Linked DNA regions of Homo sapiens. The protein of the gene in region 1 interacts with the protein of each later gene in a biochemical or structural test. Each region holds a gene or a part of one and is shown in the gene's direction. Other genes may lie near its edges.

What was found.
Region 2: the proteins of PDK2 (region 1) and PDHX form a complex in vitro, tested with the Homo sapiens proteins (one study listed by BioGRID).
Region 3: the proteins of PDK2 (region 1) and DLAT form a complex in vitro, tested with the Homo sapiens proteins (2 studies listed by BioGRID).

What each region holds. Positions count from the first base shown.
Region 1 is NC_000017.11:50,105,351-50,112,350, forward strand, and holds the end of PDK2 (pyruvate dehydrogenase kinase, isozyme 2 isoform 1 precursor), read left to right. Parts: intron 1-20; coding exon 21-92; intron 93-534; coding exon 535-719; coding exon of another isoform or gene 720-802; exon of another isoform or gene 803-1,021; intron 1,022-1,443; coding exon 1,444-1,533; intron 1,534-1,725; coding exon 1,726-1,803; intron 1,804-2,805; coding exon 2,806-2,882; intron 2,883-2,968; coding exon 2,969-3,067; intron 3,068-3,261; coding exon 3,262-3,369; intron 3,370-3,936; coding exon 3,937-4,050; intron 4,051-4,606; coding exon 4,607-4,747; 3' UTR 4,748-6,802; downstream 6,803-7,000. UniProt on the Homo sapiens protein: Kinase that plays a key role in the regulation of glucose and fatty acid metabolism and homeostasis via phosphorylation of the pyruvate dehydrogenase subunits PDHA1 and PDHA2.
Region 2 is NC_000011.10:34,961,615-34,968,655, forward strand, and holds part of PDHX (pyruvate dehydrogenase protein X component, mitochondrial isoform 1 precursor), read left to right. Parts: intron 1-5,025; coding exon 5,026-5,200; intron 5,201-7,041.
Region 3 is NC_000011.10:112,028,405-112,035,445, forward strand, and holds part of DLAT (dihydrolipoyllysine-residue acetyltransferase component of pyruvate dehydrogenase complex, mitochondrial isoform 2 precursor), read left to right. Parts: intron 1-110; coding exon 111-235; coding exon of another isoform or gene 236-239; intron 240-387; coding exon 388-541; intron 542-1,257; exon of another isoform or gene 1,258-1,987; intron 1,988-4,999; coding exon 5,000-5,126; intron 5,127-7,041.

The sequences.
Region 1 (7,000 bases):
CCCCTCCCGCCCCCACACAGGTATGTCCAGAGCCTCCTGGACATCATGGAGTTCCTGGACAAGGATCCCGAGGACCATCGCACCCTGAGCCAGTGAGTGGGGGCCCTGGGTGGGGCAGGAAGGCAGGTGTTGGCCAGGGGCATCTGGGGTTGCAGCCCCTGGGGCAGAAGTACAGCAGGATGGAAGAAAAGACCCCTGCCTTCAGAAACATCCAGTCTGAGTGGGGAGACAGACTCTGCTTCAGGGAGCCCCAAGTTTGATGGGAGAGACATGGACTCCATTCTCACTGTTCCCTGAGCCCGGTGGGCAAGACCCAGGCCCTGCCATGGGGAGGATGAGAACTCTGGGCTTTCGAGTGGGAAGCCTGCCGGCAGGCAGCTAAAAGATCAGAGTGGGCTTTGGGAGGAGCAGGGAGGGCACTGGGAGTCCATCGGATTGGGAAGGGTAGAGCGGGTGAAGACACCGTGGAGAGGGGAGTCAGAAGCGGAGAAGAGTCTGGGGGTGTCCCATGTGAACATCTGCCCTGCCCCACAGGTTCACTGACGCCCTGGTCACCATCCGGAACCGGCACAACGACGTGGTGCCCACCATGGCACAAGGCGTGCTTGAGTACAAGGACACCTACGGCGATGACCCCGTCTCCAACCAGAACATCCAGTACTTCCTGGACCGCTTCTACCTCAGCCGCATCTCCATCCGCATGCTCATCAACCAGCACAGTGGGTGCCGGCCACAGCGGCGGGGAGCGGGCGGTGGGGGGGGCGGTGCTGGGGCCCAGGGCCGGGCTGCTGAGGGGACCTAGACCACTCTTCAGAACCCCACAAAGGGAGTCTTTGAATAGTTACTCCAGTAACTATGGAGTTAATGGCTCCAACATGGAAAAATAAAATTTTTCTTTCTCATTGATTTTCCATTTCAAAACGTTTTGTTTTCAGTGTTTGCAAAATGTAAAATTATGTCACATCTTTAAAAGAATGTTTAATTTAGTATTTATAAAAACTCTCATTATGTTCAAAAACAATTTGTTGTTTAGAGTTTCTTATTCCAGGAGGATTCACTATGATTTTTGAGAAGTTGTAGCCAGTCATAAATTAAACAAGTTCCTCATGCTCAAATAATTTCCAAAGCAAGGTGGTAAGAGTTCTCTTAGAATGTTATAGTCAAAGAAAAGAATAAATGCAATGTGGAGATGTGATGTGGGGAGAGACCTCTGAAAAGACGTCTGTTTCAGGTTTGCAAAGGTTTAAAAACGGCCTAAGCCAGGGCTGGAGGGGTCAGGGGTCAGGGAAGGGAGGACAGAAGCGGGGGAGTGGGGCAGCTTTAGGACTGGAGCCTACAGAGGCATTGGAGGTGAAAGTAGAAAGAGGAGGAAAGCCCGGGGGAAGAGGGAGCGCTGGGACAGACTGCAGCCCAGCCAACAGCATCCTCCCTTCCTGCCTGCAGCCCTCATCTTTGATGGCAGCACCAACCCAGCCCATCCCAAACACATCGGCAGCATCGACCCCAACTGCAACGTCTCTGAGGTGGTCAAAGGTGAGCCATTCCCACGGTGCCTGGCCCGCAGAGAAGCCCCGGGGACCCCTCCAAGCTTACCTGGCCAGAGGGTGACTCGTTCCTCAGTAAGGGGTGCCATGGATTTAATGCTGGTGGTCCCCAGTATCAATGTCAGGAGGACTGCCTGCTGGGTGGGCCACCCATGCCCTGAATGACCCCATCTTCTCTCAGATGCCTACGACATGGCTAAGCTCCTGTGTGACAAGTATTACATGGCCTCACCTGACCTGGAGATCCAGGAGATCAATGGTGAGTGAGCGGGGCTGTGTATGTGTCTGTCTTGGGGCTGGGGACGTGGCAGGGCAAGGTGAGACGGGGAGTCAGGAGATGGACTGTTTTCTAGACAGGGGAGAAGCAGAGTTATTATATTATTAATTCATTTGATAAATATTTGGGCTGGGCACAGTGGCTCACACCTGTAATCTCAGCACTTTGGGAAGCTAAGGCAGGCCAATCACTTGAGGTCAGGAGTTTGAGACCGGCCTCGGCAACATGGTGAAACCCTGTCTCTACTAAAAATACAAAAATTAGCCGGGCATGATGGCACATGCTTATAATCCCAGCTACTTGGAAGGCTGAGACAGGAGAATCACTTGAACCCGGGAGGCTGAGACTGCCGTGAGCTGAGATGCTACCACTGCACTCCAGCCTGGGTGACAGAGCGAGACTTCATCTCAAACAAATAAGAAATTGAGTGAATGAATGAATGAAAGAGTAAGCAAGACAGAAATGGTCCCCATTCTCGTGGACCTTACATTTTTGGTGCTAGGGAGATTGCGGAATGGAGCCTTCAGCCAATTAACAAGTAAATAAACAAGACCATCTCAGATCATGACAAGTGATGGGAAGGAAATAAAATGGGGTAACTCAACAGGGGTAGGGAGGAGGGGCATGTTAGATGGTGTATCAGCTTGGCTGCTTTCCTAGAACCCCAATACCAGTGGCTTACTTAAGAGGGAGGTTTCCCTCTCGCCAGCCCCTTGCTGGACAGGTCAGGGCTGGCTCCCCACCCCTGATTCAGTTCTAGCCTGGAGGAAGGGAACAAGGGTGTGGAAAGCAGGGCCCAAGAATTGAATGCATCACTTCCATGAGTCACCAGCTACCCCAGCTCAAGGGAGGCTGGGGATTTAGTCTCTCGCTGGGCAGCCATGTACTCAGAACTTTGTGGGAGGGGGTGCCTCCTTTGGGTAAGGTGGTTGAGCAGTGACCTCCTGACGGTTTCCTGACCCTTGGTCTTGACTTGCCCTGTAGCAGCCAACTCCAAACAGCCGATTCACATGGTCTACGTCCCCTCCCACCTCTACCACATGCTCTTTGAGCTCTTCAAGGTGAGGAGGCTGGGAGCCGGTGCTTTGCGGGGAGCGTGAGTAGGGCTGGCTTCTCCCATGCATCTCTTACCTCTGCCCCTCCGCAGAATGCCATGAGGGCGACTGTGGAAAGCCATGAGTCCAGCCTCATTCTCCCACCCATCAAGGTCATGGTGGCCTTGGGTGAGGAAGATCTGTCCATCAAGGTATGTGACCCTTTGACCTTGGGGACCAGGGAGCAGTAGTGGGGGCTTCCCTCCTGCCAGGAGACGGGCTTTCCTTTTCTCCTACATGGTGGGCAGATCCTGGGGGTGGGGAAGACCATGAGAAGGTCAGGGGTATTGGGCGGGGTGGGGAAAATGAGCTGTAAAGAATCCCTGACACATCCCATCTCTCCCAGATGAGTGACCGAGGTGGGGGTGTTCCCTTGAGGAAGATTGAGCGACTCTTCAGCTACATGTACTCCACAGCACCCACCCCCCAGCCTGGCACCGGGGGAACGCCGCTGGTGAGATGGCTTCACCCCAGCCCCTCCCACCTCCTGAGGGAGGCTTCTCTCCTCACTCACTTCCTTATCTCCCTGCTCACTCAGCTTCTGTGTGGCCGTCTGTGACAGTCACCTGTCTTGAATCTGGGCCCCCGCACCTCCCACATCTCCCCAGTCTGCACAGATCTCACCTGTCGGATGTCTCTCTGTCACCTTTCCTCCATCTTCCCTCTCTTCTGTAGCTCCCAAACCCCCAATTTCTACCTTTCTCCTGGTGTTGTCCAACTTGTCAGCACCTCCCTGTTAGAAAACTTGAGACTCAAAGGAGCCGTGGGGCCTGCTCTGACTTCCTGGCCCCTGAGCGGAACTCCTCTCTCTGCCCAAGCCTCCCTCCCGCATTCATGATTGCCCCATTCACCCCACACACACTTCTTACCTCAGTGTCCCCTCCCACATGTCCCCTCCCAGCTCTGGGACCCCTGCCATGTGACCCCAGCTCCACACCCTTCCCTCCCTGCATCAGTCCCTGCAGCTCCAGGAGGCCCCTGCCAGCCTCCTCATCCTCACTGCCTTCCTGCCCCGCTGCAGGCTGGCTTTGGTTATGGGCTCCCCATTTCCCGCCTCTACGCCAAGTACTTCCAGGGAGACCTGCAGCTCTTCTCCATGGAAGGCTTTGGGACCGATGCTGTCATCTATCTCAAGGTGAGGGCCCTTCCCGCAGAGCCCAGCTGGAGAAGAGCTTTGCTGATAGGACCTGGGCAGCCTTGGCCAGCTGCGAGCTTTCCTTTCCATCCCCCCAGTCCTTCCCTGGCCCCAGACTCTGAGAATCCAAGCAAAGCTACAGTTCCTCAACCTGAAGAACCCTCAACCCCCAGACACGCACTGCTTGTCAGGGAATTTAGGGGAGTCTGTGGTCTATGATTAAGACCCCTGTGCTGGGAACCCTTGACTTGTTAGACCCAGAAGGAAGGGGACACCCTAGGTCTTGCCATTCAGTTCAGAGGAGAAGACTGAGGCCCGGAGTCCGTGACTTGCTCAGGGTCACACAGCCCAGCCTCCTCCCCCTCCCTCTCCCTCCCTTAGAGGGAGCTGCTTGCTTGAATGGGCAGGAGCGGGACACAGGAGGGACCACCCTTTTGTGGTCTTTCCAGGCCCCCGTGTCTGGCAGCTGGGCTGCCGCTGAGCTGGGGTGGGGTGGTCTGCTGAGGAGTGGACAAGGCACAGGGAGGTGGGAGGGGCTGACCCTGACACTCCCCAGGCCCTGTCCACGGACTCGGTGGAGCGCCTGCCTGTCTACAACAAGTCAGCCTGGCGCCACTACCAGACCATCCAGGAGGCCGGCGACTGGTGTGTGCCCAGCACGGAGCCCAAGAACACGTCCACGTACCGCGTCAGCTAAGGGCCGCCGTGCATCTGCACCTGAGAGGACGGACTGCCGCCTCTGGGTCCCCCCACCGTGGTGCCCCTCACCATCCTCCTGGGGGAGCAGGGGGTGGGTTCTCCCTGATGACCAGGTTCTGTCTCTATGGAAGTCACTGCGGTGATAGGTCTGTGATGGTCCCTAAGTGCCAGTCCATCTCTGTGGAGACCCCTCGGTGGCCTCCCTATCTCTGTGGGCGATGCCTGAGGGTTAGGGATGTCTCCACCCTGATGGGGTGTCCCAGAGACATTTTCCCATGGCAGTCCTCCTCTCTGAGACCAGGGCTGTCACTTTTCTGCCAGGGGTACTGGGTCCCCCTCAGCACCCTCCACAGCACAGGCCTTCCAAGTGGATGTCCCGTTGCCTTATTCCCCCAGCCCACAAAGGCACCCTGGCCTTGGCCTGCTGAAGTGTTAGGAAGAGGGTGGGTGCCCTCCAGACCTGGGGACTGAGTGGGGAAAGGAGTTACACCCGTGAGTGGGGAATGAGGCTGGTCCTGCAGCCTCTCCCTCCGCTCAGGGCTTGAAGGTCGGTGGCGGAGGGGGTGGCTCTCACAGGGCCCAACTCTAAAGTGGAAGAACCTTGTTAGACCGAGAGCTTGCCATCCAGCCAAGCTGCTCGAGGCCCTGCAGTGGCCTTGGCAATGTCTGTGCCACCTCCTGAGCCCTCCCAGCATGTCCTCACATGCTCATGCCCACCCGCTCCTCCACAAGCCTAGTCCATCCTGCCTGAGCTCCAGCCCCCAGCCCCCACTGTGCCCAGACATGTGTGCTCAGGGTGGCTTTCTCCCTAGGACCTTCTGTGTATATAGTTAGTTTTATAACCCTGAATGCCCCCACCCTTCCCCTAAGCACACAGGGGTTAAAGCTGTGTGTCCCTCCCAGTGGCTGTGGCAGTGACAGTGACACCCACACCCACAGTAAAGAGGAGACTGAATGAGACTGGCCTGGCTGCATCCCTGGGGGAGGGGACCCACACGTGCGCACGTACACACGCACACTGCGGTGCCCTGTGACCACCACATGACGCACCGGGGACGTCCGGCCCAGCTCAGGACTGTGAGTAAAACACTGGGCAAAGCCATCTGTTCAGAACGCCGGATGGCCCAGCACCTGGTGACAGACCTGTTGTCCCACCATACTCAGGGCCCAGCAGAGTCCGGCCAACCCAACAACTGGAGCAGACAGAAATTCTGGTCACTGGCACATCATAAGGATTTATTGAAATAAATTGAGAACTGCCTCCCCTTCACATGCAGGTGGGCACCCACTATAGCTACTGATGGCTTTAAGGATGTGGGTGCCTTCCAACCTCCCATGGCCCTGCCACCAGGCCCAGATGGTGCCAGTGTCCTCATATCTGTTTCCCTCCGAAGCCCCTCTCCCAGCACAGATAGCAGAGGGGGGATAAGGGCTGAGTCCCAGGTACAGGGTGCTGGCCGTAAGCCACAGCCCCTGGGCAGGAATGAGGGAGCCAGCATGCATTGGTGCCATCTGCCGCTCTGTCTGGGCAGATGGGAGGAGCTGGAGGGGTTTCCAAGCGGGAGCCCCCAGGCCTCATCGGTAACTCTGACCAGTGTCCTGGAAGCGGGACTAGCTGCTGACCAGCGCCACACATGAACACTTCCTCCAAGGACATTTCCTAAAAAGGACACATGCTGTCCCCAGGCTGCTGGTAAACTCCACCCCCATCCAGGGAGCTGGCCCCAGCCCTCAGTGTGGCCCAGGGAAGCAGAGCTTGCACCGCCTGCCAGTTCTGAGCCCACTGATTCCCTGACAATGCCTGGGGCAGATGGGGGAGGGCTGATGAACCTTTCCAATCTCGTAGCTGCCGGGGACCCCCAGGTTTTGCCTCTCTGCCTGGCTGGGGTGAGGGCTGACCAGGTCAGCAGCTCCTAGGCCTTGGCTGGTGGAAGTGGTGTCCTCTGTCCCTATCAGTTCCTGTTTGCTCAGCTCCCAAAGAGGACTTAGGTGCCCTCTGAGGAAGCAGCAGGAAGTGAAGGGAGTCCTGGCTTGGAGAATGGGTCAAAGACCAGGTCTTGAATGGGCCCTGAGAGGCAGACCTGTGTGGTGTCATCTCGCCCCCTGGGACCCACAGGACAGAGGAGGGGAGAGGGAGAAGGGGATGTTCATCCTCCCCTCTTGAGTCCTGGCAAAGACTGCACTCGCCCCAGGCTGCTTTCTCTGCGCTCCTGTTGAGGAGTTTGGCTGGGAGTCTACCCTGAGTGCGACT
Region 2 (7,041 bases), on another chromosome or scaffold:
TTATTTTACTCTTCATGAAAGCTTTGGCTTACTGTTGGGTGTTTATTTTATTGAAAGCAGTATATAGATTTAATTCTTAGATATCCTCATTTATGTGTATTACACTCTTACTAATTTGTTAACTGAATGTATGTGGTTCTATCACACACATACTGTGAAGTTCGTGCCACACTGCATGAGTTGGAAATCAGCTGTCCTGAGAGCTGACTGAAAGGCAACATCCCAGACCATGGGATTTTTAGTTAAAGGATTTAAAAGTTACACTTAGCTGTAAAAAATTAAAATTAAGAACCTTGGTTGCCAGTTAATCCCAGTTTTTTCCCCACACCAATCCTGATTTGTGTCTACTGTTGGTATCTTAATCTTGTTAGTCTCTACCAGTCTGTGCCTTAGTAGCACTCTCTGTAAAAATGGGAGAAAGCAACTATTTTTATAACAAAGTAGATTTGCCTTGCTCATAATTCTGAGGATTAGGAATAAGAGTCTGTATTTAATTCATTAATCTTTGAGGATTTGGTGAAATGTAAAATAATGATTGCTGCACCTTAGGGGGATCAGTTCTGCAAATTTGTGTAAGATAAACTGGAGCAGAAAAAGATGAGATAAGGAGATAAATTAATAGGCTCCTAAAGTAATCCATGTAAGAGGTAATGAATACTTGAATGTGGTTAGAAGAACTAAAAGGGAGATCCCTGATACAGACAACATTGTAAGGATAAAGTCCAGAAGCCTTTGCAGATTAAATGTGGAGTGTAGGCCAGAGTAGCAACAAGTAAGGGAATGAATTTGGATCTGGTCTAGGTGATGATAGTTTGGTCTCCATAAATAGAAATAATGGATTTGGGAAGCATTTGTTTTGGTGGAGTTAGTAATGTTTGAAGCTTATTGTCAGGACTTAGAAGCCATGTAGGTATTGGGATCAATGAGATGAAGATGTATCTCAGGAGATAGTTGGGGATTAGAGAGGTAGATTTGGTAGATAATAAAGCAATAGTTATAATTGAGATCATCAATAGGGAAACTAGAGGTTAAAATCCTTGAGTTGGAGGATACCTGGGAAATGTGGGAAAAGTCAAGGATGGTAGGATCTAAGAAAAGCCTCTTAAATTTGGTAATATGGTGTTCAGTAGTGTGACAGCAGTAAAATAAAGAAATAAAGGTTTCTTCCTTCCTTTTCTTTCCATGTGTGCTTAATACATATATGATGCGCAAATATCTTTTTTTAAACCTGAGTTGAAAGTTATAATATTAATGAAACATTTCTTAAGAACAAAATGGTATTATCTCCTGAATACCATAAGGAAGCAGTATTAAAGAGTTAGGCTTTTAGTATTATTGCCATCTTTTCTACCCTGTTACCCTTTTCTCTTCCCTGCCTTTATTCCTTAACTCTCCACGAGAAAGGCATCAGCCTTTGGTCTTCAAAATAAGAACTAGTACAAAAGATTTCATGAGAAAAATGGATCCTGAAAGCATATATTATTGAGGATTTTTGCTTTTCTATACTGCTAAAAATGCCTGCATTTTAAGTTTATCATTAAGGTGAGCTTTGGAAAAAATTTTAGCCTAATGTCGTCTTCTGCTATGGTTGAAAAATTGCAGGCTTTGGCATAGCTGTCCCCAAAATATCTTAGCACACTTTTTTATTTTTTAACGTTTTGAATTTTTTTTTCTTTAAGAGAGAGACAGGCTCTCACTCTGTCACCCAGGTTGGGGTGCTGTGGTGTATTCATAGCTCACTGCAGCTTTGAACTCCTAGGCTGAAGTGGTCCTATCACCTCAACCTCCCAAATAGTTGGGACTACAGGTGTGCCACCATGCCTGGCTAAATTTTTAAAACAGTTTTGTAGAGACGGTTTCTCACTAGGTTGCCCAGGCTGGTCTCAAGCTCTTGGCCTCAGGTGACCCTCCCACCTCAGCCTCTCGAAGTGCTGGGAATGCAGACGTGAGCCACTGTGCCCAGCCAACACACGTTCTTGACACGGTGAGGACATGCTCCATACCATGTCCACTAAAAGTCTGGGTAGAAAAATCAGTTCCAAATGCTGAAGGAAATGCCTCCAGCCCACTGTATTTGTGAAGAAAATCTTGGGTATCAGGGCTGCTATTTTAATTTTGCCTTAAAACAAGCATTGCTCAGAATACATGTTGTACCAAAGAATATAGACTTGACTTTGCTTGTACATGTGACTGTTTTAAGAAAGCAGTGTCGAGGCCACAATTAGAAGCAGAACACATTTAGTTTCTTTGCCTGCAGCCCCAATGTCTTTGGTACATCTGTGTCCTAAATCATAGTTGTAGTAATGTTTGTATTCATCACACAGCATCAAAAATTAGGTAAGTATGACAGGCAAGTGCCTAGTGTGTTTTAGTGGTATTTTCAAAATGAATTCATGTCACACCCAAATGAATTGCTCTCTCAGGGAACCCAGTAGAGAAGGTTGTACCTGAGTTAACTTCCAGAGCATCCTCTGCCTATCTGCCTATTTCTGCCAGTGGCCAGAATGAATTTGTGTGGTATATTTTTCTCCTAATTTTTATAGCTTTTAATGTCTACCTAATGCTCCAAGTTTAGTCTGATTATTTAATGTGCAGAAATCATTAAAACCATTTTCTGCCTCACAAAAAACTAAATCATTGGCTGTTACTAAACAATAATTAAGATTTATACTTCATAGGTATGTAAGTATAAAATCAGCAATAAAAAGACCAGGTGCAGTGACTCACACCTGTAATCCCAGTGCTTTGGGAGACCAAGGCTGGCGAATCACTTGAGGCCAGGAGTTTGAGACCAGTCTGGCCAACATGGTAAAACCCCATCTCTACTAAAAATATAAAAATTAGCCAGGCGTGGTGATGCACACCTGTAATCTCAGCTACTAAAGAGGCTGAGGCATGAGAATCTCTTGAACCCTGGAGGCGGTGGTTGCAGTGAGCTGAGATCGCGCCACTGCACTCCAGCCTGGGTGACAGAGTGAGACTCTTTAAAAAATAAAAAAAAAATAAAATCAGCAATACAAGTTTTTGTGAGCAAGAAGAAGCAATTTTGTTCTTGCTTCTTTATGATTAACCTACCCAAGAACCTTAATTACTACAGAGATAAAACTAAACTGCTTTTTAAAAAATAAAGTAGCAGTAATAGTTATGCTAAATATGTAATATTAGCATAACTAATATTAGCTATTAGCATAACTAATATTAGCTATTAGCATAACTAATATTAGCTAGCTATTAGCATATTATTAGCATAACTAAATATTACATATTACTAAATATGCTAATAAGTAATAGTTATGCTAAAAATGTGTCAATTTAGTGTCAGCAACCTTTTTTTTAAATAGATGTATTCGGGCATTAACGATACAGATTTTTGCACCCCAGTTAGACTGTTCCTGCTTGTGTTGATATTCTATTATTGCATAACAAGTTACAGTAAACTTACCAGCTTAAAATAATACCTGTTTGTTTTCTAACAGTTCAATAGGTTAGAAGTCCTGGCATAGCATGGCCAGGTTCTGAACTCATGGTCTCACAAGGCTGAAATCAAAGTGTTGGCCAAGGCTGGGGACTCATGTGAAGCTTGGGGTCCTCTTCCAAGCTCATGTGGTTGTTGACAGAATGCAGTTCCTTGGGACTGTAGGACTGTGGCCCTTGTTTTCTTTCTAGCTCTCAGCCAAGAACCACTGACAGCTCCCAGAGGCCACGTGCAGGGCCTTGCCATGCGTGGTCTCCATAGGCGGTTCACAACATGCATGTTTGCTTCTCCCGGGCCAGCAGTTTTATCTCTTTACTTCAAGTCTCTTCTTCCAGGAAGGCCTAATTTCTTTTAAGAGATTACCTGATATATCTGCCCTCTCCAGGGTAGTTTGCCTTTTGGTTAACTCAAATGCAACTGATTTGGAGCCTCATATATCTATAAAATGCCACCAATTTTGTCACATAATAGGACCTAATAATGGGAGTGACATCCATCATATTCACAGGCCAGATACAGTCAAGAGGGATGATATGGGGCATGTACACCAGGGGCAGGAATATTGGGGCCATCTCAGAATTCTTCCTACCATGTTGCCATAAGTAAAGGGGTCTTCTCAAATATGCTCAACAGGTGCTAGCTTTTATCTTTCATCAAATTTTTGGAAAAATAATACCAAAATATTAACTGAGAAATAATTTTTCCTTAGATTTTGTGTCATCCTGAAGTTCTTTTTAGATTATATAAAACAATTTTTTTTCTTAAATTGGAAAAAATACTTTCCAAAATACTTATTGGATATTAAAATGTTCCAAAAATTATTTTAAGAAAATATATTGCCTAATACCACTGTAACTTAGCATAGTGAGTTGAGGGCTTAGCATATTTAGTAATCTAATTATATCCTCTTACAAGACAAAAATACCTTTGTTTTACAGAGTAATACAAAGGCAAGTCTGTAACTAGTTATTTTTCATTCTAAAAGATATCATAGGTTAGATTTGTTATATTAGATTGTACTGATGGCATATTAGCAAAATTAAAAATGGTTTGATTTCCTGGTCATAAATAAGCTGATTTGCACTATAATAAACAATGAATAAACAATAAGTGAACAATGATGTAGGAAGTATCCTGGTGAAAGCCATATTTACAATAAACTTGACACTTTTTGAATGCCATGTGAATATTATTTCATGAGTATAAAGGATGAGAGTGGTTTAATTAATTGTTCATCTACCAAATAACGTCCACTGCACAGAAAAAAAGACTAATTTCCTTTTTAAAAATCACTACTTATGCCCAATTTTAATAACATTTTAATTGTTTGGCTTTTGAAAATATGCAAATATTAGAACGTGACAAATAATGGTCAGCAGACCAGGTAAGAGACAGGATTTAATTTTCTAGCTCAAATTACTGGTTTTTAATTATAACCTTGACATCTGTATATTTCTGTATCTTTTCTCCACATCTCACCTGCGTTTTCTGAAAGTTCTGTTATATTCCTTATTGCTAATTATGGTTATCTACTTTGCTCTTATTTCCAGGGATGCTCTCAAACTTGTCCAGTTGAAACAAACGGGCAAGATTACCGAGTCCAGACCAACTCCAGCCCCCACAGCCACTCCCACAGCACCTTCGCCCCTACAGGCCACAGCTGGACCATCTTATCCCCGGCCTGTGATCCCACCAGTATCAACTCCTGGACAACCCAATGCAGTGGTAGTGTTCTCTAAGTGGATTTTTATTTCTTTTTCTTGTTTTTCTTTTTTTTTTTGAGACAGAGTCTTGCACTGTCACCCAGGCTGGAGTGCAATGGCACAATCTTGGCTCACTGCAGCCTCTGCCTCCCAAGTTCAAGTGATTCTCCTGCCTTAGCTTCCTGAGTAGCTGGGATTATAGGCACGCACCACCACACCCACCTAATTTTTGTATTTTTAGTAGAGACGGGGTTTCACCATGTTGGCTAGGCTGGTCTCAAACTCCTGACTTCAGGTGATCCACCCGCCTTGGCCTCCCAAAGTGCTGGGATTACAGGTGTGAATCACCGCACCTGGCCTAGATTTTTATTTTTCAGATTCAAGTGTGAGAGAGAAAATAAGAACAATTACTATGTGTTTTAAGAGTAGATTTAAAACAGATTAGTTTTATTAATCCGTTTCAATAGTAGCTAAGTGATAAGGATAAAACACTCCAAATGCTTTGTTTTACAGATTTCCTATCAGAAACCAAAATTTGTTTGTGTGTTAACTTCCAAATAAACATTAGAACTATAATTCAATTTAAAGTTACCACAAGTTCCACAACTTCAGTAACATATATATTCTCTACAATCTCATGTTTCATGTCTTAAGTGTGATACTAATAATTAGTAGCTGACACTAGCTCCCTTTTGTGGATATGTTCTACTTTTTAACTAGGGAATTGATAATCTCACTATGAAGAACTATGTAGCTAGTCATTCTTTCCTTCTCAGATGCATGCAGTATAACAGCCCCTTTTTGTTTTCAAATTACTCCATTTTGCCTCTCTGTGCCTTTCCTATTCAGGTTATTTTCTTCCTATCAGAAGAAATGTAGGATAGCCCAGTTTATTTAAAATCGAATGGGCACTTAAAAAAATAAATAGATAAATGTGTACTCCTAGTGGAGAACTATATACCATATGATATTTTAAAAGAGTTGAAAACAGTACAACTTTCATGGGAAACAGATTTTTAAATATCCATTAATGATTAATATACTGCATACTTGAATAACCTGCTCTTTAAGGACATGCAGTTGGATAAGATACTATGTATATTGAGTGTATAGTCCACTCTTTGACTATATAATGTATATGGACTATGAAATATGTATAATTCAATCATATGTCTTTTAAAAGTAGGTTATTCAAGGCTGGGTGTGGTGGCTTACACCTGTAATCCTAGCACTTTGGGAGGCTGAGGTGGGAGGATTGCCTGCACCTAGGCATTCAAAGACCAGCCTGGGCAACATAGTGAGACCTCATCTCTACAAAAAAATTTTAAAATCAGCTGGATGTGGTAGTGTGTGCCTGTAGTCCAACTACTCAGGCGGTGGAGATTGGGGAATCACTTGAGACTGGGAGGTTGAGGCTGTAGTGAGCTATGTGCACTCCAGCCTGGGTAATAGAGGAAGACCCTATCTCAAAAAAAAAAAAAAAAAGTTATTCAAATTAAGGAGGTAAACCTTACTTTCAAATTCTTATGGTATGTAGAGAGCATTTATTCTACTTGACCAAGTACTTTGCTAACATAAAATGTTTAATTTCTTAATGATATTTGTAAAAATGAAATCAGCCGCACTTTCATTTGCTTTGTATTATCTTGAAGTGATTGTAATGAAATCCCAAAATAGAGTGAAGGACAAGAAAGGAATTAGATATAATTTAAAATCTGTCATGCTTTTTTGAGAGATCCAAGGAACAGAATGGAAAAACTACAGTGAAGTTATAGGAATATTTTATTATCTCATTCATACTTTCTATTATGAATCTGTAAGAAATAAGATACTCATGTTATTTTTAAAAATTACAAATCCAAA
Region 3 (7,041 bases), on another chromosome or scaffold:
TGAGACTCTGTGTCTCAAAAAAAAAAAAAAAAAAAAAAAAATTCTAGACACAAGCTAATAAATTACATACCAACAGTACAAACCTGAGCTACTGCTTTTTGTGTTAAAAGGTTGAAACTGATAAAGCCACTGTTGGATTTGAGAGCCTGGAGGAGTGTTATATGGCAAAGATACTTGTTGCTGAAGGTACCAGGGATGTTCCCATCGGAGCGATCATCTGTATCACAGTTGGCAAGTGAGTAGTGCGCTCATAATTTGTGGAACTTCATTGCTTGGTGGAGTATTTTACCCAGAATTGAGAATTAGGAGTTAAAGACTATTTTTTAAGACTACTTTTGTGAAAGCTGAATCTGCCCATTATATTTATGCATTCTTTCTCTTCCTTAGGCCTGAGGATATTGAGGCCTTTAAAAATTATACACTGGATTCCTCAGCAGCACCTACCCCACAAGCGGCCCCAGCACCAACCCCTGCTGCCACTGCTTCGCCACCTACACCTTCTGCTCAGGCTCCTGGTAGCTCATATCCCCCTCACATGCAGGTGAGGCTCAGCCTCTGAGTTTTTGCTCTAGGTGATTACTTACTTACTCACTTTTTTTCATAGATGGCTACTACATCTTGGAAACTGACATTAAATGTGGTTAGGTCTTGTCATTTGGGAGTATATAGGTTTAAACATGAAGATTGACAACTATTCTTCCTGGTTGTTATTTCCAGTTATAAGAACTTGAACAGTTCCTGTAACCTTTCTCAGCCTCAGTGTAGTACACAGGGTAATGCGTGGCACTTTTCATTCAAGAACATTACATTACAGATTTTGAGGATGATTTTTACTAACATCTATTCCCTGTATAATTAGAGTTTATAGCAGGCTGTGTTAGTCTGTTTTACTTTGGCATGAAGAAATACCTAGGGCTGGGTAATTTATAAAGAAAAAAGGTTCATTTGGCTCAAGGTTCTGCAGGCTGTACAAGAAGCAGGGCGCCAGCATCTGTTTCTCTTGTGGCCACAGGAAGCTTACAATCATGGTGGAAGTTGGAAGGGAAAGGGGAAGGGTGGTGTGTCCCATGAGAGAGGGAACAAGAGACAGAGGGGAGTGGGTAACCAGGCTCTTTATAGCAATCAGATTTCCCCTTAACTCATTACCATGGGGCATGCAGCAAGCCATTCACGAGGGATCCTCCTCCAATACCCAGACACCTGCCACCAGACCCCATCTCTAACATTGGGGATCATATTTCTTTTTTTTTTTTTCCACATACAAAAAAACTTTATTTACACAGTCTTGGATTCTGAATCTCCAGTACTTCCAGGGTCTCTTGATCAAATGGGGCAGCAGCAGGCAGGGAAGCAAACACAGGGGCCAGTCCAGATTATCTTACTCAAGAACACCACCAAGAAGGGAAGGCCTAATTCAGTCTTGGTCTGGACTACATCTCCCCGCACTTTGAGATCACCACAGTAGTTTGGGCTTATTGTTGGGGCCTGTGGGAACATTCTGAATCTTTCTCATCACTAGAAGTCCATCAGTGATTTTTCCAAACATTACATGCTTCCCATCCAGCCAATCACACTTAGAGCAGGTGATAAAGAACTGACAGCCATTTGTACTGGGACCGCTGTTTGCCGTGGAAAGCAGGCCTGGAGCTGAGTGTCTAAGTTTAAAATTTTCGTCTGCGAATGTCTCCTGGTAAATACTGGCGACTCCAGTACCATCTCCATTAACAAAATCTCCACCCTAAATCATGAAATCCTTTATGACCCTGTGGAAAGTGCTTCCTTTGTATCCTATTGGAACCCCATCTTTTCTGAATTCTCTAGTGCAGAACTACCCAAAGTTCTCGGTCGTCTTAGGCACAACGTCTGCAGAGAGCTCGATCTTTGTGCGGCCAACTTCCTGACTGCCATTGCTGACATCAAAGAACACCATGGGGTTAGCAGGGCTTGAAGTTGCCACCACCATGGCTCTGACCCGGAAACGGAAGTCGGGGGATCATATTTCAGCATGAGATTTGGAGGGGACAGACATCCAAGCTGTATCATAGGTGTCAAGTGCTGTCTGTTGAATGAAAGTCCCCAGTTGGTGTTCTTTTGACATGTGGTGATCTATTTTCCAAGAGTGGGTGAAGTAGTCCAATAGTATTAATAAATGAGAAAACTGACAAAAGTTAAGTGTAAGATACACATATGTAATAGTGTTGCATCAAAGTTGAAGGCAGTGAATGTAATCACTGTTGATTGTGCTAACTAAATCAGTTTCTAAGAAACTAAGTCAGTTTATTAGGTATTAGGGTTATCGTCTGTATATTTGTGTGCTTTAGATGTTAAAAGTGGATAAAAATCCAGCCGTCCTTTTCTAAATAATTCTGACTGGCATTTCTCCTTAATCTAGTTTATTTGTAGAAATTTTTGTATAGGAATCTTTTTCTCCTTTGGAAATAATGTTCTACTCCATGGTCTGTTAGTAACAATCATTTAGGATTTTTTGCCAGGTGTTCAGTTCACACATGTATTACATGCTGTTCGGCAAATTCTATCTCATGATGTAAGACTGACTTAATTTTCCTCTACTTTGTGTCTGTAGCTTTGTGTGCATGTGTTAGGGTTTTACCTTAATTATTCTTTAAGATACTGAATTGGATTCTGAATCTCTGATAGTATTCTTTAAGATACTGTATAGAGATTATTGGCTTCACTGTTTCTTAAGAAGCAGATGAAGATGGCAAATTCTGCACAAAAAAAGCACTTACAATTTTTTTTCTAAGGCTTGTCTTACTTTCCCCTCTCTGGAAACATCTTCAATTGAAGTTATTTTCCTCTCCGCATAATCCTGTTGCTAATCAGATACAGAAGACAAAGAGGATAGCAAATGAAACCAAATTCAGTGGATACACAAGCCATATAAATAGTAAAGCAATTTTACATTTAGATAGGCATTCTGATGTTTGGATATTATTGGGGTGGAAATGGCTATTATAAAAACAGGGCTTTTTTTACCCCTGGTTTTTTATTTTTATTTATTTATTTTTTGAAACAGGGTCTCACTCCATCACCTAGGCTGGAGTGCAGTGGCATGATTTCGGCTCACTGCAACCTCTGCCTCCTGGGTTCAAGCGATTCTCCTGCCTCAGCCTCCCGACTAGCTGGGAATACATGCACATACCACCACACCTAGCTATTTTATTTTTTGAGATAGGGTCTCACTCTTCACCTAGGCTGGAGTGCAGTGGTGCAATCTTAGCTCACTGTAGCCTTGACCTCCTGGCTCAAGCCATCCTCCCACCTCAGCCTCCCAAGACGCTGTGACTACAGGCACGTGCCACCATGCCCAGCTAATTTTTTTTTTTTTTTTTTTTTAAGAGATGAGGTTACATCATGTTGCTCAGGCTGGTCGTGAACTCCTGGGCTCAAGTGATCCTCCTGCATCAGCCTACCAAAATGCTGAGATTATAGGCATGAGCCACCATGCTGGTCTTTCCTGTTTTTTTTTTTTTTTTTTTTTTTTTTTTTTGAGACAGTCTTGCTCTGTCACCATGGCTGGAGTGTAGTGGCACGATCTTGGCTCACGGCAACCTCTGCGATTCTCATGCCTCAGCCTCCTGAGTAGCTGGGACTACAGGTGGGTGTCACCATGCCCAGCTAATTTTGGTATTTTTAGCAGAGGAGGGGGTTTCGACATGATGGCCCGGCTGGTCTTGAACTCCTGGCCTCAAGTGATCCGCCCCTCCCAAGTGATCCTTGGCCTCCCAAAGTGCTGGGATTACAGATGTGAACAGCTGTGCCTGGCCTCCTGTTTTATTTTTTTGAATGATCATCATGCCACTGCACTCCAGGCTGGGCAACAGAGTAAGACTCCATCTCAAAAAAAAAAAAAATTATCAAATAAAATTCTGTGTAAGAATTCTGTGTACATATATTATATACAACAAGTTGTTTTGAAATATGTATATATTGTGGAATGGCTAGATTGAGCTAATTTATATATGCATTACTTTATAGACTTATCTTTTAGGCCACTTAAAAATCTACTGTCAGGAATTTACAAGAATACAATACATTGTTATTAACTATTGTCACCAAATAATGTTTTTTTTTTTAATATGGAATGCTTCACGAATTTGTTGTCCTTGCGCAGGGGCCATGCTAATCTCTATATCGTTCCAATTTTAGTATATGTGTTGCTGAAGCGAGCACAGAACAGTTCTTAATATTACGTTTTTATCTTGGAAAGATATCTGGTAAGGTTGGGACAAATGCAGTTTCCTGTGGGTAAAAAATAGGTAGATGCTAAGTACAGAGCGCAGTAAAATTTTAACAGAATGGTTTGGACCAAGGTCATTTTGTGAAAATGAAAAACTTCTTGGTTAAAAAAAAATGAAGTCTGGGCGCGGTGGCTCACGCCTGTAATCCCAGCACTTTGGGAGGCCAGGGCGGGCGGATTACTTGTGGATGGGCGTTCAGAGACCAGCCTGGCCAACATGGTAAAACCCCATCTCTACAAAAATACAAAAATTAGTGGGCATGATGGCACCCGCCTGTAATCCAGCTACTCGGGAGGCTGAGGCAGGAGAATCACTTGAAACCAGGAGGTGGAGGTTGCAGTGAGCCGAGATTGCGCCATTGCTCTCCAGCCTGGGGGACAGAGCAAGACTCTGTCTCAAAATAAAAATAAAAATAAAAATAGATGAAAAGATGCTCCATACTTAGATGTTGAGAAATTAATTTTGACTGTCTGAAAGAAATCTTTCCCATGTGCTTGTTGCATTTAACTTGGAGTGTGTGTTAGAGTGTGGGCGAGAGTATAAGAGTATGGGTCAGAGTATGAGATTTGAAGGATGATTTACCTGGTGGGAAGCTATTGAGGTGTGAAGCTTTTGCTGTGGTGAGTATTTGGATTATCATAGTCACCATCATTCTATGAAACCACATAAGTCTGCCAGACTTTTATTATGTAGAAGTCTTCCTGGTATTAAGCAATAATATGTGTTTGTTTCTGCAGGTACTTCTTCCTGCCCTCTCTCCCACCATGACCATGGGCACAGTTCAGAGATGGGAAAAAAAAGTGGGTGAGAAGCTAAGTGAAGGAGACTTACTGGCAGAGATAGAAACTGACAAAGCCACTATAGGTGAGATTTCTTCAGCTCTTAATGGTTGAGGCACTGAGTTTCCCAATGAGGAAGAGGATTGCCATTCTTTCCTATAATGAGTGAGTGATAATATGAAAACTTTATAATTCTTAGGATTCATTTTCTGGGACAGAATATTTTATTTTTATTTAGTTATATGTATTCTTTAGTTTTTATTTATTTATTTGTTTATTTGCTTATTTTTCAGACAGGGTCTTAATCTGTTGCCCAGGCTGGAGTGCGGTGGCAAGATCATAGCTCATTGTAGCCTTGAACTCCTGGGCTTATGCCCAAATGATCCTCCTGCTTTAGCCTCACAAGTAGGTAGGACTACAGGCCTGAACCACCACACCTAGCTGATTTTTTAAATTTTTTGTAGAGATGGGGTCTCACTTTATTGCCCAGGCTGGTTTTGAACTCCTGGCTCAAGCGATCCTCCTGCCTTGGCCTCTCAAAGTGCTGGGACTCCAAGCGTGAGCCCCTGTTCCTGGCCCAGCATAATTTATAACAAAAATAATGCGTAGTCAGATTTGTCAGTTCCATCCTGTGCTCACTGAATCAAAGGCAATCAATCTGTCAATTCACAGATTATTTTTAGGCCCAAGTTTGCTTCTTGGCCTTATTATGTTACTGAGAAGCTATATCAGAATTGCTGCTGTCTAAACTAGGCAAAGGAAGTCAAGAAGAAACAGGAGAAAATCACTTCCATGGCAGGATAATAGCAAAGAATTTAAGATGACTTTGAGGGAAAACTGAAACCAGGGTTGAGATTGTTTTCATAGTTTGAGAATGACTGATAGAATGTATGTGTGTAATATATATATGTTCAGATATGTCATATGTCCACATATCTCCTTCTTAATTCATTTTTAGGCTAAAAAAACCCATATAGACAATAATATATTTATTATTATTATTTTTTTTTTTTTTGAGACGGAGTCTCGCTGTGTTGCCCAGGCTGGAGTGCAGTGGCGCAGTCTCAGCTCACTGCAAGCTCCACCTCCTGGGTTCACGCCATTCTCCTGCCTCAGCCTCCCGAGTAGCTGGGACTACAGGTGCCCGCTGCCACGCCTGGCTAATTTTTTGTATTTTTAGTAGAGATGGGGTTTCACTGTGTTAGCCAGGATGGCCTTGATCTCCTGACCTCGTGATCCACCTGTCTTGGCCTCCCAAAGCGCTGGGATTACAGGCGTGAGCCATGGCGATTTGTAGTATTATGAATTTCTTCTCTCTGCACCCCCGCTTTTTCTTTTTTTTTTTTGAGACAGAGTTTTGCTCTGTCACCCAGGCTTGAGTACAGTGGTGCGATCTTGGCTTACTGCAGCCTCCGCCTCCTGGGTTCAAGCAATTCTCCTGCCTCAGCCTCCCGAGTAGCTGGGACTACAGGCATGCACCACCATGCCTGGCTAATTTTTTGCATTTTTAGTAGAGATGGAGTTTCACCATGTTGGCCAGGCTGGTCTCGAGCTCTTTAACCTCAGGTGATCTGCCTGCCTCGGCCTCCCAAAGTGCTGGGATTACAGGCATAAGCCACCGCACCCAGCCTCTCTGCTTCATAATCACCACCAAAGGGAAGCCTTTCCCAAAGATGTAATGGGAGGTACTGGGCATCCTCTGCCTTGGTTGTTTTCAGATTGTGTTCTTCAAATCCCATCATTCCTTTAAGGCACCTTGAGGCAAAGGGGGAATTAAAGAGCAGGACCTTACAGCCCTGCCTCCCTGCCTTACTTCCAGCAGAGCAGTTCTTTTCTATCTTTTTGTATTTTGTGCTTCCCCATAAATTTTATTTGAAGAAAGGATTCTGTTTCTTAAAAACACAGAAACTTTGGAAACAGTAGTTCTGCTTCACCATTTAACTTGAATACCAGTGTCACTATAGAGACTAGTCACTAGAGAAGTGTTACCTTGGTTGAAC